Linked DNA regions of Homo sapiens: region 2 is linked to region 1. Evidence: fine-mapped expression QTL. A gene starts in region 1. The other region holds a variant in brackets. All regions are shown on one strand. Distances are from middle to middle.

Region 1 (8,317 bases):
GACCCTAAGCGAGCCCTCAGGGCTACTGACAATCCTAAATCTCTCCCCCAAGGGACTATTTCCCTTTCTTGTTGTTTTTAATAGAGACAGGGTCTTGCTCTGTCACCAAGGCTGGAGTGCAGTGGTGTGATCATAGCTTACTGCAGCCTCAAACTCCTGGGCTCAAGTGATCCTCCCACCTTGGCCTCCCAAATTGCTGGGATTACAGGCATAAGGCACTGCACCTGGCCCAAAAGACTATTTCACACCTCAGTCATAATGCCAGCCCCTTCTTCCTAAACCTCCCTCTCAGCAGTTGACTTTTATTGTTCTTTCCTTTTTCTTTCTTTTTTTTTTTTTTTTTTCTGAGACAGGCTCTCGCTCTGTTGCCCAGGCTGGAGTGCAGTGGTGCGAATACGGCTCACTGAAGCCTTGACATCCTAGGCTCCAGCAATCCTCCCACCTCAGCCTCCTGAGTAGCTAGGACCACAGGTGTGCACCACCATGCCCAGCTGCATGTTTTTTTGTTTTGTTTTGTTTTGCTGTTGTAGAGAGTTGGTGTCTCACTATGGCTATGTTGCCCAGGCTGATCTAGAACTCCTGGGCTAAAGCAATCTTCCTGCCTCAGCCTCCCAAAGTGCTAGGATTACAGGCGGGAGCCATCACACCCAGCCTCCTCCCGTCCTTATCTACACTTGATCTTTAGACAAGACCCACATGCTCTTCCCTTTAAATATGACTCCCCAGGCCAATGTGTGCAGCCTCTACCCCTCCCTGGACTCCCCACAGGTACAGCCAGTGGCATCCTTGGCATCTCTAGACTAGTGTCCCGTAGATCACCCTGACCCTCATGAGCCCATTCTCACCTCTTCACCCTCACCCCCACCTCCCCACACTCAAACCCTCATCCCTCACCCCACACCCCCTGCCCCGCCCCCACCTCTCCAGCCTCACCCCCATCCTCCATCCTCACTCCCATGCCATGTTCAGCCCTACTCCCCACCCTGAGCTCCTTCATCTCCAGCCACATTGATCTGCTAGTCTCTAAATGTCTTCCCATTTCTGGGGCTTTGCACTTGCTCTTGCCTCTGCTTGGAACTTTTCCCAGCTTTTCTATTTTTGTTTTTCTTTCGAGACAGGGTCTTACTCTATCACCCAGGTGGGACTGCAGAGGTGCAGTCACAGCTCACTGCAGCCTCAACCTCCTGGCTCAAGCAATCCTTCCACCTCAGCCTCTCAAGTAGCTGGGACTACAAGCACGAGCCACCATGCCCAGCTAAGTTTTAGTATTTTTTATAGAGGGGGGAGTCTTGCTATGTTGCCCAAGCTGGTCTTGAACTCCTGGGCTCAAGAGATTCACCCACGCTGGCCTCCCAAAGTGCTGGGATTACGGGTGTGGGCCACTGCGCCCAGCCTTCCTGGCTTTTCTTAATTTCTTATCCTCTGGGGGTCTCAAGCTCAGTTCCCCCTCTCTGCTCATGGTTACCTAGTGTGGTCCTCAGCTCGAGCCCCTCCCAACTGCCCTCCATCTCATCATCCTTATTTATTTATTTAATTTTTTAGGCGGAATCTCACTCTGTCACCCAAGCCGGAGTGCAGTGGCGCCATCTCGATTCTCCTGCCTCAGCCTCGCAAGAGTAGCTGGGATTACAGGCATGCACCACTACACCCAGCTAATTTTTCCTTTTTTTCCTTTTTTTTTTTTTTTTTTTTTTTTTTTGAGACAGAGGTCTCACTCTGTCACTCAGGCTGGAGTGCAATGGCGCAATCTCGGCTCACTGCAACCTCCACCTGCCAGGTTCAAGCAATTTTCCTGCCTCAGCCTCCGAAGTAGCTGGGACTCCAGGTGCGTGCCACCATGCCTGGCTAATTTTTTGTACTTTTAGTAGAGACAGGGTTTCACCATGCTGGCCAGGCTGGTCTCGAACTCCTGACCTCGTGATCCACCCGCCTCGGCCTCCCAAAGTGCTGGGATAACAGGCATGATCCATCGTGCCCAGCTAATTTTTGTATTTTTAGTAGAGACGGGTTTTCACTATGTTGGCCAGGTTGGTCTCGAACTCCTGACTTCAGGTGATCCGCCCACCTCAGCCTCCCAAAGTGCTGAGATTACAGGTGTGAGCCACGGCACCCGGCCTATCATCCTTATGATTTTCTTCCAAGCAGTTAATGCAGCCTGTCATTATTTGTTAATCTGTGTACTTGACTAACCTTGGCTGGTGTGTTCCCTTCTATGTGCCCATGGTAGATGCTCTGTAAATACTAGTTGAACAGATGCAGACATGAATGAATGGATGAATGAAGCACTCACCTCCTACCGGGAAACTAATGCATCATTCCTTAACAAAGCACCTACGCGGTTTTGTATACCAGCTCCACCACTTTCTGGGGTAATATTTTCTACTTTTTAAGAGTGTTCTCCAGATTAAATGAGTTAATATAAGTTAAACAGCTTAGAATAAAATATTGGCCCATATCTCCCCACCCTCCCTCCCCTTGTACAAAAAAAAAAAAAAAAGGCCCGGTGTGGTGGCTCACGCCTGTAATCCCAGCACTTTGGGAGGCAGAGGCGGGCAGGTCACCTGAGGTCGGGAGTTCGAGACCAGCCTGACCAACATGGAGAAACCCCGTCTCTACTAAAAATACAAAATCAGCCAGGCGCGGTGGCACATGCCTATAATCCCAGCTACTCGGGAGGCTGAGGCAGGAGAATCGCTTGAACCCGGGAGGCGGAGGTTGTGGTGAGCTGAGATGGCGCCATTGCACTCCAGCCTGGGCAACAAGAGCAAAACTCCATCTCAAAAAAAAAAAAAAAAAAAGAATCTTGGCCCATAAAAGAATGTTGGCCTATAAACACATAAACATTAGCCATTGCTACTACTGTCATTATGATTTGGTCCACAAATAGAACCAGGGCTAGGGACCGGGCATGGTGGCTCACGCCTGTAATCCCAGCACTTTGGGAGGCCAAGGTGGGGCGGATCACGAGGTCAGGAGATCGAGACCATCCTGTGAATGGTGAAACCCTGTCTCTACTAAAAATACAAAAAATTAGCCGGCCGTGGTGGCGGGCACCTGTAGTCCCAGCTACTCGGGAGGCTGAGGCAGGAGAATGGCGTGAACCCAGGAGGCGGAGCTTGCAGTGAGCCGAGATTGCGCCACTGCACTCCAGCCTGGGTGACAGAATGAGACTCAGTCTCAAAAAAAAAAAAAAGAACCAGGGCTAGGGACAGTCCTCAAAAGAACAGCTAGTTTCTCTCTAGAATTCACTTCCTTCTCCTAGCAAACTCCTACTCCTACGCATCCTTCAAAACCCAGCTCAAGGCCAGGCAAGGCGGCTCACGTCTGTAATCCCAGCAACTTTGGAAGGCCAAGGCAGGCAGAATGCTTGAGCCCAGGAGTTGGAGACCAGCCTGGGTAACACAGCAAAACCCCCGATGTGTGCAGCACATTGTACTTTTTATTTTTCTACTAAAAATACAAAAAAAAAAAAAAAAAAAAGGCTGGGTTCAGTGGCTCACACCTGTAATCCCAGCACTTTGGGAGGCCAAGGTGGGTGGATCACCTGAGGTCAGGAGTTCGAGACCAGCCTGGTCAACATGGTGAAACCCCGTCTCTACTAAAAATACAAAAAATTAGCCGGGCATGGTGGTGCGTGGTTGTAGTCCCAGCTACTTGGGAGGCTGAGGTGGAAGGAAGCCAAGGCTGCAGTTAGATATGATCACGCGGCGACAGAGTGAGATCCTGTCTTAAACAAAACAAAACGAAAACAGCTCAAATATCTCCGAGCTTTTTCTAAGCCTTTATTGAGCACTACTGTGGGTCAGGCTCTGGGCTTGACTTTGTAATCGCAAGAGGGGCAGAAACGGGCTGCTCTCAGGACACTCAGGAGAACACGGGCGGAGAAAGCTCACTGATCACGTCGACCTAGCAAGCGAGCGCACGCTGGAGAAAACGCTGGGATCAACACGCATCTGCCAGGCCCAGACGGCAGAGGGGGCACTGCTGGAAAGGCCGGGAACCTCCCCTCTCAACCTCCCACCCAAACCCATCCCTCTTTTGGGAACTTGGCAGGCAATGAGGATAGGGCCTTAATTAAGTGGACGCCCAGTATGTGTATTTCACGTGCGTTATTCCACTGGGGCCTCACCCATTATCAGGACACCAGTTCTATTTTAACCCAGCGCTGAGGCTCTGAGAGGTCAGTAACATGGCCAAGAGCTCACAACCAGCGAAAGGCAGGGCTGGGATTACAGGGCGTCTCACTCCGCCTCCCAAGCGCTGGAAAGTCGGTGGAGGGGCGTCCGCTGCTCTCTGGCGCCCCCAATTGGCCGCCGAGGAAATGAGGCGGCGATGACCTGTTCAGACCCAAATGGGATGGAAGAGTGGGGATTAGCGGGGGTAGGGGGTGGGGTTTGGACTCTTTTTTTTTTTTAAGACAGTCTGGCTCTGTAGCCCAGGCTGGAGTGCAGTGGCGCGATCTCGGCTCACTGCAACCTCCGCCTCCCGGGTTCAAGCAGTTCTGCCTCAGCCTCCCGAAGGGCGCCACCATGCCTGGCTAATTTTTGCATTTTTAGTAGAGACAGGGTTTCGCCATGTTGGCCAGGCTGGTCTCGAACTCCTGACCTCAAGCTATCTGCCCGCCTCGGCCTCCCAGAGTGCCGAGATTACAGGCGTGAGCCACCGCGCCCGGCCTACCCTTGAAGACCCCGCAGCCAAGGTCCTCCGGCCCCGCTCTGCGCGGCGCTCTGGTCTTGGGGCTCCGGACTCTGTCATGCCGGGCAGGGGCCAGTCCGATCCTTGCACCCTTGCCTGGCACCGTCCCTGGAGCCTTGGCGTCCTGGCCTCTCCTCCCCGCGGGCTGGAGGTGGAGTGGCCGGGCCGGAACCAGTGCGCAAAGCAGATGGCGAGCGCGGAGGTCGGTTCGGCCCCGCCGCGCCTCAAGGCAGCAGCCACCCTGGGGAAGGTGGATGCCGGAAGAGGCGTCGCCTGCGGGTCACCCAGAGGACACCCGGCGGGGAATTCCGAGGGTGGGAGTGAGGAGAGGTAGGAGAGGCCACGGCAGAGGGAGGCCCCGCGCAGAGTGGGAACCATCGCCCGGTGCGGGCCTGAACTTCCAGGGCCGGCTACTCCTCGGCAGAGCGACCGCGCGGTGTCTCAGAGCGCGGCCCGGAGCCGCACTAAGAGCGCTGGACGGCGGGAGAGAGGCTCGGAGGACCGGTAGCTCCCAGCAAAGCGGCCCAGCGGGTAGGTACAAGGCCCCGCCCCTCGCCAGTCCTCACTGCCTGTTCTCCCTGCGCCGGGGAGCTCCAGGCCCCAGCCCTAACCTGGGCCCTAGCGGCTCCCCACTCCATGACCTCTGGACGCCCAGTCGGGTCCAGGCGCGATAGGGAGGGCGCGGGCGCCCGGGCAGAGGGGCCGCGGGAGCTCAAGCGGGGCTCCGTGCGTGCCCCAGCCGCCCGCTTGCGCTGTCGCTGCAGATGTCGGGAGCTATCTTCGGGCCCCTGGAGGGCCCGAGCTCCCTGGATGCCCCGAGCATCCACCCGCTGGTGTGCCCGCTGTGCCACGTGCAGTACGAGCGCCCGTGTCTTCTGGACTGTTTCCACGACTTCTGTGCCGGCTGCCTGCGTGGCCGCGCGACCGACGGCCGCCTCACCTGCCCGCTGTGCCAGTAAGTGTCCCAAAGTTCCCCAAAACCCCCCAGACCCCATCCCCCGGGCCCAAGGTTGGCTCTGCCCGAGCTGGGACCCAGGTGCCAGGAGAGTAAGGCTCCAACTTCAGGCAGAACGACTGGGAGATACTGCACCCGGTCCTTAGCTCTCCCCGCCAGAAGTTGCAGGCTTCGGTCCATTTTATAGATCAGCTTAACTGAAGCCTGGAGATTGCAGTTACTGGCCCAAGACCTCCCATCAAAAGTCAGAGGGTAAGGGCGGGGCTCCAGCACTGGTCAGGACGCTCCCGGTTACTCGCTTGGGGGTCCTAGAAGTCTTAGGTCCACAAAACCACAGTTTCAGTTATGTGGGCTCAAGGAACCCAGGAGTGGCTCTGATTTGCCCAATGCCGTGAGAAGATGTCGAGGAGCAGCTTCTGCTTTTGATACTAGGGGACCAACCCCACTGTCTGCAGGAGTGCCCAGGACTGGGCAAGGGTAGGGACCAGGGCAGGGTGAGTGCTGGCTGTGATATTTATAGCAGACCCCAGAGCTGTGGTGCACCCCACCTCCCAACACAGCTATTTTTAGCTCCAGCCTGGAATGTGAGGGGTGGGGGTGGGGAGCCCTGGGGAAGGGGTATCAGAATCTCGGGGCCTGGGCTTCTCTGCAGACACCAGACGGTGCTGAAGGGTCCCAGCGGGCTCCCGCCGGTGGACCGGCTGCTGCAGTTCCTGGTGGACAGCTCAGGGGATGGCGTGGAGGCGGTGCGCTGTGCCAACTGTGACCTGGAGTGCAGCGAGCAGGCAGGGGCGGCAGGGCGGGTGGGTGAGGAGCAGAGGGTACCCGGTTGCACAGTCCCCAATGCTTGCACATGCACTCAGCATGTCTTCAGAGGACGACCTGGCAGTGGATTCTCCAGCACCTCCCTAGGGCACCTTGGCCCCAAATGTGAACCCCATTATACCGGTGGGGAGACTGAGGTCCAGAACAAGGGACTTGAGCCAGTGTCCAGACAGTGGCAGAGGCTAAGGCCATTCGATCTGGGGAGAGCTCACTGGTCCCCAATTCAGGGTGGAGTTGTGGACCTGCACAGGAGGGGCAGTCCAGTTTGCAGGCCTGGGCCGACCCTGAAGGGCCTCTGCTACCCAAGTGGCATAGAAGCAGCTACAGCCCAGGGGAGGTGGGGACAGCATGCTGTTCCCTCTGGGCTGTAAAAGGCACAGGGGACTCTGGCCTGCGGAGGCCAGAAAATGTATCGGGAATCCCAGGAGGACGGCCCGACTGGGGCAAAAGCTCCAGCGTTCTGGACAAGTGCTGAGCAATGTGTGACCCAGACGTACAGAGAGGATTAGCAGGAGGTAGGGACTGCAGGTAGGGCCTGTTATGTCCATCATTGCATGCGTCCATACCAGGGCTGCAGGCCAAGCCCTGGAATCCCAGCCCTGGGTCTGGCTTGGGGAGGAGAACCTTAAAGCCCTCACTGCTCTTCCCCTCCCCCCGCCCCCAAGTGTGACTCCAGATGGCCAGGGTGTACACCACCTTTCGGCCACTATTGAGTGTGCCAAGGGGGCCGTGAGAGGCCCTCACACCCTTTTGTTGCAGGTAAAAAAAAAAAAATTTTTTTTTTTGAGACGGATTCTTGCTTTATCGCCCAGGCTGGAGTGCAGTGGCGCCAACTTGACTCACAGCAACCTCTGCCTCCCGAGTTCAAGTGATTCTTCTGCCTCGGCCTCCCGAGGAGCTGGGACTCCAGGCGCCCGCCACCATGCCCAGCTAATTTTTGTATTTTTATTAGAGACAGGGTTTCGCCATGTTGGCCAGCTCCTGACCTCAGGTGATCCGCCCGCCTCGGCCTCCCAAATTGTTGGGATTACAGGCGTGAGCCACCGCGCCCGGCCTCGGTAAAATGTTTTATAAAGGCAGTTTCTGCCCTCTCCCCGCGTCCCCCACCCCCCTCCACGGACCTACTTACCCAGCCTCTGAGCCGCAGTGCCCTCCTCTGTAAAGTGGGTATATCAGAGCGCCAAGTGCCTGGATTACAGGAAAGGGCTGCGTTTAGCTGCGCACCCGGCCACGGCTGGGACAAACACGCGCAGTGACACGCGGCGGCTGCGGTTCCCGCGCTGGCCGCGGTCGGGCTCTGGCGCTCCTGAGCCCGCGCTCGGCCCGCAGGACGTGGAGACCACGTACTTCTGCAACACGTGCGGACAGCCCCTATGCGCGCGCTGCCGCGACGAGACGCACCGAGCACGCATGTTCGCGCGCCACGACATCGTGGCCCTGGGTCAGCGAAGCCGCGACGTGCCCCAGAAGTGCAGTGAGTGAGGCTTGCGGGGCCGGGGACTTGGGGGTGGGGGCGGGGCGGGCACTGACCGGAGCCCTCACCACCGCCCGCCGCCCCCGCAGCGCTGCACGCAGAGCCCTACCTCTTGTTCTCCACCGACAAGAAGTTGCTGTTGTGCATCCGCTGCTTCCGCGACATGCAGAAGTGCGTACAGGGGACGCGAGGGGAGGGGGCTGGGGGCCGCTGGAGCGGGCCTCACCCGCCGCCTTCTGCAGGGAGAGCCGGGCACACTGCGTGGACCTGGAATCGGCTTACGTGCAGGGCTGCGAGCGGCTGGAGCAGGCGGTGCTGGTGAGCGCAGGGGCCTGGCGCGCGGGGCCGCGCGGCGGCGATCGCGAGCC
Region 2 (8,317 bases), 29 kb after region 1:
TGAGACTATAGGCATGTGCCACCAGGCCCAACTAATTTTTGTATTTTTAATAGAGATGGGGTTTTGCCATGTTGGCTAGGCTTGTCTCAAACTCCTGATGTCAAGTGACCCACCCACTTCAGCCTCTCAAAGTGCTGGGATTACAGGCAACCGTCCAGGAGAACCACCTCTACAAAAAATTTAAAAATTAGCCGGACGTGGTGGCAACACCTGTAATGTATTCCAGCTACTTGGGAGGCTGAGGTAGGAGGATCACTTGAGCTCAGGAGGTCAAGGCTGCAGTGAGCCATGATCAGAACACTGCACTCCAGGCTGGGCAACACAGCAAGATCCTGTCTTTAAAAAAAAAAAAAAAAAAAAAAGCTGGGCACGGTGGCTCATGCCTATAATCCCAGCACTTTGGGAGGCCGAGGCGGGCAGATCATGAGGTCAGGAGATCAAGACCATCCTGGCTAACACAGTCAAACCTCATCTCTACTAAAAATACAAACAATTAGCCGGGTGTGGTGGCGGGCGCCTGTAGTCCCAGCTACTCAGGAGGCTGAAGCAAGAGAATCGCTTGAACCTGGGAGGCAGAGGTTGCAGTGACCTGAGATCATGCCACTGCACTCCAGCCTGGGCAACAGGGCAACAGAGTGAGACTCCATCTCAAAAAGGAAAAAAAAAAAAAAAAGGCCAGGCACTGTAGCTCAAGCCTGTAATCCCAGCACTTTGAGAGGCCCAGGAAGGCAGACTGCTTGAGCTCAGTAGTTCAAGATGGCTCTGGGCAACTCGAGAAACCCTGTCTCTACAAAAAAAATACGAAAAGTAGTCAGGCATGGTGGTTCGTGCCTACAGTTCCAGCTACTTGGGAGGCAGAGGTTGCAGTGAACCAAGATCGCACCACTGCACTCTGGCCTGGTCAACAGAGCAAGACTAGGTCTCAAAAAAAAAAAAGAAAGAAAGAAAAGAAAAGAAACGAAACAAGGCCTTTTCTTCAGCCTGAGACAGAACAAACCTCCATGGCTCACACAGCTCACTAACACATGGCCTCGGCCCCATTAATACCTATTTCTGATGAAAACTAGCCAAGCTGCCACATGAGTGACAGAGGGCACTCCCTTCCCTAAGCCCCATCTCTGTCCTCACCCCCTCTGGGGTGCTTCAGATCTATTAATAGGTTGAAGGGGCAGAGAAAGGGAGAGGCACAATGGCTCATGCCTATAATGCTAGCACTTTGCGAGGCTGAGGTGGGAGGATCACTTAAGGCCAAGAGTTTGAGACCTGCCCAGGCAACACAGTAAGACCCTGTCTCTACCAAAAAAAAAAAAAGAAAAAAGAAAACAAACAAACAGAGGCAGAAACAGGATGAAGGGATACAGCAGGTAGCTAACAGCACCAAGAATCACCAAGGACTTACGCACCCAGGTTCTGGGCACATAGTGAAAAGCATTAAGGACTACATTAGTTCTCTTGACTTTTATTAAATTATCACTTGAAACGCGCCAAGAAGAACATGTACCTATTATTTAAAGGAGACCAACAACCTCATGAATACACTGAAAACCACTAATTGTATATTTTGAAATGGTGACTTTTATGCTACGTGAATATCACGTTTAAAATGTTACTTAAAAAAAAAAAAAAGAAAAGCAGTGTCATATTTAATATTATACCTGAGTTCCAATACTCCAGTAAAACCACCCGACGTAAGAAGGATGCCGAAACCAAGCGTACACTCCACTGGTCACCAGAGTATGTGTATCTGATTTTTCATTCTGTACCACGTGGTTGAAATTGGAGCCAGCTGTAAACATGGCCGCCTTCCTCAGACATTCTCCGAAGACCACCATCAGCAGCCCTGTGACACTGAGCCAGGTAATCTGCTTCAGTTCTGTGGGAGAGAGACATCAACGACACACGGGGAGTGAAAACACTGGCCTGAGCTCCCCTTCGCACTGCTTAAAATTAACCTATTTTCCCGAAGACAGAAACAGAAAATGTGCTGCTGGGCAATCAGCATTTGTCATCACATTAAAATTTCATAAGAAAACACATTCCCCTAAGTTATGCTGTTCATCAATTTACTTTAAAACACCAATAAGCACAATGAAAGCATCATGGTAAAGAGATGCTCTCCTGCTACAGCTGATGGGCTCTCTGGTTCACGACCCCCGGCCACATGCTCAGTCCTTCATCTGGGGACAAGTATAGCTAAGAGAAGCAAAAAAGGGTCCAAGGTTTCCACCCTGAATCCCAGGAGCCACATGTATTTCATTTCATTGGCTGTGAGACATTCAATTTCAGAGTGCATTCCACATACGGAGGCTTTTATTTTTTGAGACGGAGTTTCACTCTCATTGCCCAGGCTGGAGTGCAATGGCACAATCTCAGCTCACTGCAACCTCCATCTCCTGGGTTCAAGCAATTCTCCTGCCTCAGCCTCCCAAGTAGCTAGAATTACAGGCATGCACTACCAGGCCCGGCTAATTTTGTATTTTTCGTAGAGACGGGGTTTTACCATGCTGGTCAGGCTGGTTTCAAACTCCTGACCTCATGTGATCCACCCACCTCGGCCTCCCAAAGTGCTGGGATTAAAGGCGTGAGCCACTGCACCCGACCTTGTTAGTAAACTCTTTTTTTTTTTTTGAGATGGGAGTCTCGCTCTGTCACCCAGGCTGGAGTGCAGTGGCGCGATCACGGCTCACTGCAACCTCCGCCTCCCGGATTCAAGCAGTTCTCCTGCCTCAGCCTCCCGAGTAGCTGGGATTACAGGCATGTGCCACTACGCCTGGCTTTTTTGTATTTTTAGTAGAGACGGGGTTTCACCATATTGGCCAGGCTGGTCTCGAACTCCTGACCTTGTGATCCACCCGCCTCGACCTCCCAAAGTGCTGGGATTACAGGCGTTCGCCACCGTGCCCGGCCAGTAAACTCTTACATGAAACGTCTAAATATCATCTGATTATAAAATTAGAATCACAACTACTCAAGGTTGGGGCTTCAAATTAGATGGTGCACTATGTGATGCAAACTTTAAAGCAAAAGGTCAGCACGTCCTCGAGTCAATATCCAGAGGCAGAATTCATGAGCGGAGCTCATCCTTTATAAATAGCTTAGTGAGGATAGAGGTCTGCGGAAAATCGCTTGGGGGAGATTAGACCTGAAAGGTGAATCAATGTCACTGTCCTCAGCCTGAATGGGAGCCACCCTTTTCCCCTCCAGAGGGGGACATAAGGCACACGAACCTGGCCAAAAGATATTTTCAAGTGTGAACTCTAACCAAGAAGAAAGAGCAGCTACTGTATACTCCAGGCTGTGATTCAGGAGAAAGGAATCCAAGGACAGACTTTTGGGATTATTGACTGCTGTCACCAAGTATTCAGAATAGTGGAACAATGACAGGGAGCACATGTACCTATTTAAAGACAAAAAGAGAGTTAAGTTGGGACAAGAGAACCAAGTTAACCATAAGTGCACATCTGGGTCTCCTGAGCTGTCCCTAAGTCTATGAGGCCCTGTTCTCACCTGTCTGAGAGTGGACACAGGTACCCATCTGCAGCATCTACTACCTCAGGTTTGCAAAAAGTGGAGTTTTTAAGGGGCTGTTTTTGTTTCTGGTGTTTTGTTTTGTTTTGTTTGAGACAGAGTCTCGCTGTGTCGCCCAGGCTGGAATGCAACTGCGTGATCTCAGCTCACTGCAACCTCC[G/A]CCTCCCAGGTTCAAGCGATTCTCCTGCCTCAGCCTCTCAAGTAGCTCAGACTACAGGTGCCCACCACCACGCCCAGTTCATTTTTGTATTTTTAGTAGAGACAGGGTTTCGCTATGTTGGCAAGGCTGGTCTCGAACTCCTGGCTTGGCCAGGCTGGTCTTGAACTCCTGACCTCGTGATCTGCCCACCTCGGCCTCCTAAAGTGCTGGGATTACAGGCGTGAGCCACCGCGCCCGGCAAGGGACTGTTTTTGAATGTCACAGGCAAAACAAACCCATAGGTCACAGAGGCATTATGGGCCCTTCTGTCCGTTAAAAATGACACTACACACAATAAAACATGAAAGAGGGAGATAACAACATAAAGGAGTGATGTATGTCGGATACAAAATTTAACAAAACTGAAATAATTCCGGCAAAGAAGGATTAGATGGCTCAAAATATTGATAAGAGGAGATAAAACTTTTTACCTTGAAGCCACTGGTTCATATCCAGGTCAGACTAGAAGGCTCAAGGGACTGAAATCATAGTGTAGGGAAAAATCCTACAGTGGCTGTGGGGATGCACTAGATGTGACCTAATAGAAATTAGAGATGAAAAAGGCCCATGAAGACAAGCCAGAGCCCTGCCCCTGCCCGCCACCGAGGACCTGCACCCCTTCCGGGAAGGGCTGCTCAAGTTACGGAATGCTGTCACCACAGCTGCGGATGACAGCACCTTTGGGGGTGCCAGGGAGATCTGTTTCTGCCTGATTCACAATCAACCCACAGGCACGAAATCACAAGGGCTGAAATGTGAGCAACTAGGGGGAAGCCAGGAGACTTCGTTTCCAGAGAACCCTGAACAGCCTTCTGCCGGTCACAGATGAGACAGGGATGAGGAAATGCCGCTACAGACCCTCTGATCTGTCCACCCTCGCCTGAAAACCAGTATTTCCGAAGGAATTCTTACCAGCCAAAGTGACTCCAAGAAGACTGGCTAAAACTTAGCAGCGTGCCGCAGCCGAACACAAACCCCAGGAAACAAGCTCGGATGGCTATCTGAAAGGAACCCAAGAGAAGCTCAGTCATTCACAGTCCTCAGAGTACAGATCTGGGCTGCTGACCTTCCCGGAATAGGCAACCCACAGGCAAGCAGATAGAGCCGATTTGCTGAGGTTGAAAGGGAGAAGTGGGCGACCTGGGTTCAAATTCTGCACCCACCGCTCTCTGGCTGTGTGGCCTCCCAAATTATTTAACCTCTCTGAGCTTGCTTCCCCATCTACAGCCAGGGGATAACAGTACCTACCTTTTAGGACTGCAGTAAGGATTACCCACGTAAAACACTTAAGACTAACTGCTACCTACATTTTAGCTGTCATTATTATTATTATTCGTGATTACTATTCAGGGCTGTAGGAAAACTGCTTAAGCCTAGTTTATGAGGTCAGGGCACCCGGGCCTGTGCGCCCAGCCCCACCCACGTCACTGCGGGGCCTTTGACCTGAGACAGGGCAGCAGGTAGGTCTCTGCACCTTAAGTTACATAAAAGCACTCGCGGGCTCGCTCACTCCACCCCACGCGCACCTGCTGAGCTGCACAAGCTGCAATTTAACAACCCACTCCTCGGGTGCAGGGCGCCCGAGCCCGGAGAGAGAGGGTCCCCTCCTGCGACCTGAACTCGCGGATGAAGAGCGCGCGCGTGGGAGGCCACTGCGGGCCCGGGGAGAAAGGTGCCCACGCGCCGCGCCAAGCGGACCGCCGCCCGCCCCGCCGGCCCCCGCCGGCCCCCGCCGGCCTGCACCTGGTAGCGAGGCGGCCGATAGAGCAGCAGCAGCAGCGCGTTGAGCCCGGCCACGTAGAGCGCCAGCCCGGTGCGGCCCTGCAGGCCGGCGCGCGTGAGCAGCGGCAGCGCGAGCACCGAGGCGCCCAGCAGGAAGGTGGCGAGGCTGAGACGCGCCTCAGAGCCCGGCGGAGCCCGCGCCGCGCAGCCCGCCATGGCGCCGGGCGGCGGACTAGCGGGCGGCGGCGCCGGCTGTAGCCCGGAGAAACGCGCCGGCTGCGCCTGCGCACTGTGCCGCCGATGCCGGCCCGGGAAGGGCAGCTGCCCGCAGCTGCGCGCCGCCTGCCAGTTCTCGCGAGAACTCCGGCCCGCCCTGTTGCTGTCCGGAATTTGGCGGGAGCGCCCCGCCCGCCCGCCCCTCCCCGCCCCTCGGGGACATCCGGGCTCTGAGCCAGACTCTGTGCCGGGCGGGGGCCGGGAAGTGGTGGGAGAAGTCGCCGCCCGCGTCTGTCCAAACTTAGTCCCAAACTCAGGAGGTTCCTGTCCCAAGAAGCAATGTAAAGTTTGAAACGAGCCGAGCGCGGTGGCTCACGCCTGTAATCCCAGCACTTTGGGAGGCCGAGGCTGGCGAATCATTTGAGGTCAGGAGTTCGAGACCAACCTGGGCAACATGGGGAAACGCCGTCTATACTAAAAATACAAAAATTAGCTGGGCGTGGTGGCGCACGCCTTTAACCCCAGCTACTTGGTGAGGCTGAGGCAGGAGAATCGCTTGATCCGGGGAGACGGAGGTTGCAGTGAGCCGAGATTGTGTCACTGCACTCCAGCCTGGGTGACAGAGTGACACTCCATCTCAAAAAAAAAAATTTTGAAACGGCCGCACCCTCGCCGGCCCTGCGTCGTCCCCGAAAACCAGACGCCCTGGGGCGCGGGGCCAAGTGCGGCGACCTCCTGCCCTCCCTCTGCGGCTCCCTGGAAACCGGCCTGGACAACGGCACCTGGGCATCCATGCAACGGGACCACCGCCCGCTTAAATTCCTGTTGTGGAACAAGGCTGGACGGTGATGGGAATGCTCAGGATATGTTAGGTTTTCTTTTTTTTTTGAGACGGAGTCTCGCTCTGTCGCCCAGGCTGGAGTGCAGTGGTGCGATCTCGGCTCACTGCAAGCTCCGCCTCCCGGGTTCACGCCATTCTCCTGTCTCAGCCTCCCGAGTAGCTGGGACTACAGGCGCCCGCCACTGCGCCCGTCTTATTTTTTTGTATTTTTAGTAGAGACGGGGTTTCACCGTGTTAGCCGGGATCCATCTCCTGACTTCGTGATCCGCCCGCTTCGGCCTCCCAAAGTGCTGAGATTACAGACGTGAGCCACCGCGCCCTGCCTATATTAGGTTTTTAAATAGCAGGAGGCAAAGCTTTTCGGTGTGATCCTGACTTCACTTGGGGAAAAAGGGCAGGTATCTGAGCCTGGGAAAATGATCAAGCTATCAGCCAAAATGGTATAACGCCGACTATATATGTACCTTTTTTTTTTCTTTTTTTCTTTTTTAGACACAGGGTCTCACTGTGTTGGCCAGGCTGGAGTGCGGCAGTCTGGAACTCCTGGGCCCAAGTGATCCTCCAATCAGCCTCACAAAGCACTGGAATTACAGGTATGAGCCACCACCCCTGGCCTATCTTTAGGTAGTGGCACTCTTGGTGATTTTTATTGTCTTTATCTGTTTTTGCAGTTTCCATACTGCCTACAATGAACACAGGATACTTTTTTTTTTTCAGATGGAGTTTTGCTCTTGTTGCCCAGGCTGGAGTACAATGGCGCAATCTCGGCTCACTGCAACCTCCGCCTCCGGGTTCAAGTGATTCTCCTGCCTCAGCCTCCTGAGTAGCTGGGATTACAGGAGCCTACTACCACGGCCAGCTAATTTTTTTGTATTTTTAGTAGAGACGGGGCTTTACCATGTTGGCCAGGCTGGTTTCAAACTCCTGACCTCAGGTGATCCACCCGCCTCGGCCTCCCAAACTGCTGGGATTATAGGCATGAGCCACCGTGCCCGGCCCATAGATTACTTTTATAATCAAGTTTTTCTTTACTTTTTAAAGAGTAAATTCTCTCACCTCAGGTAGCTCAGAGAGCTGCGCTGGAGGAGAAAAGCCAGTAAGTGAACAACTGGAATAAACTCTGCAGGGGTGGCAGTGGGGGCAGAAGGAGAGCAAGGATGGGGAGCAAAGAGGGACCCCAGGGGAGGCCCTCAGCTTGGAGGGCGGCAGGGCGAGGAGGCTGCGAGGAACAGACGCCAGAGCTAGGCCTTGGGGCCCTTGGGGATGGACAGCCTGCCCTCCATTGGAAATGAGATCAAGGAGGGAGTGAGGGCTTGGCGTTTGAAAGGCACAGAGGCGGGAGGGAGAAAGGCTGAGAAGGGATGGGGACAGGCCCTCGGGGAGGCTGGCATCAAGTGGTGGGTCAGCGAGAGAGGCAGGCGGTCTGTGAGCCCTGCATCTGAGCCCCTCTCCACTCTTGTCCCTGCAGGTCCTGGCAGGAGCTCTGGTACCTGGGAAGCTGGATGGAGAGCCTGGGCCAGAATCCCGGACCCCTCACCTCTGCGGCCTAGCTTTGTGACCTTGGCAAATCCATTCTATGCACCTCCATTTCCTGTACAGTGGGGATCCTTATTTCTCTGGCACAGATTGGTATTTGTTCTGTAAAGCCCAGTACCACTTTATTTTATTTTAGTTATTGATTTTTTTGAGACAGGGCCTCACTCTGTTGCCAAGGCTGGAATGCAGTGGCGAGATCATAGCTCACTGCAGCCTCAAACTCCTGGGCTCAGGCCATCCTCCTGCCTCGGCCTCCTGAGTAGCTGGGACGACAG

Evidence for each region. PIP is the estimated chance that this variant, and not a neighbour inherited with it, causes the effect.
Region 2: its variant is fine-mapped to the expression of RNF207 in sigmoid colon (GTEx, PIP 0.96). The same link has a PIP of 0.9 or more in esophagus mucosa.

Annotation. Positions count from the first base shown.
Region 1 is chr1:6,201,077-6,209,393 of GRCh38, forward strand. It overlaps RNF207 (ring finger protein 207), which reads left to right and starts at 5,043. Exons shown (of 18, transcript NM_207396.3): 1 at 5,043-5,226; 2 at 5,460-5,650; 3 at 6,303-6,435; 4 at 7,805-7,949; 5 at 8,039-8,120; 6 at 8,192-8,267. The coding sequence starts at 5,460. It overlaps RNF207-AS1 (RNF207 antisense RNA 1), which reads right to left and starts at 4,704. Exons shown (of 3, transcript NR_125997.1): 1 at 4,678-4,704; 2 at 4,130-4,337; 3 at 3,764-3,906. RefSeq lists silencers at 4,073-4,367, 5,316-5,485, 7,633-7,927, 7,972-8,041 and enhancers at 4,419-5,238, 4,886-5,115.
Region 2 is chr1:6,230,247-6,238,563 of GRCh38, forward strand. ICMT (isoprenylcysteine carboxyl methyltransferase) reads right to left here and starts at 5,718. Exons shown (of 5, transcript NM_012405.4): 1 at 5,471-5,718; 2 at 4,640-4,728; 3 at 3,228-3,397; 4 at 1,656-1,873. The coding sequence starts at 5,665. ICMT-DT (ICMT divergent transcript) reads left to right here and starts at 5,994. Exons shown (of 5, transcript NR_103534.1): 1 at 5,994-6,090; 2 at 6,720-6,904; 3 at 6,999-7,099; 4 at 7,568-7,602; 5 at 7,975-8,317. RefSeq lists silencers at 5,387-5,446, 5,657-5,986 and an enhancer at 5,951-6,923. The variant G/A (reference allele first, on the strand shown) is at 3,689.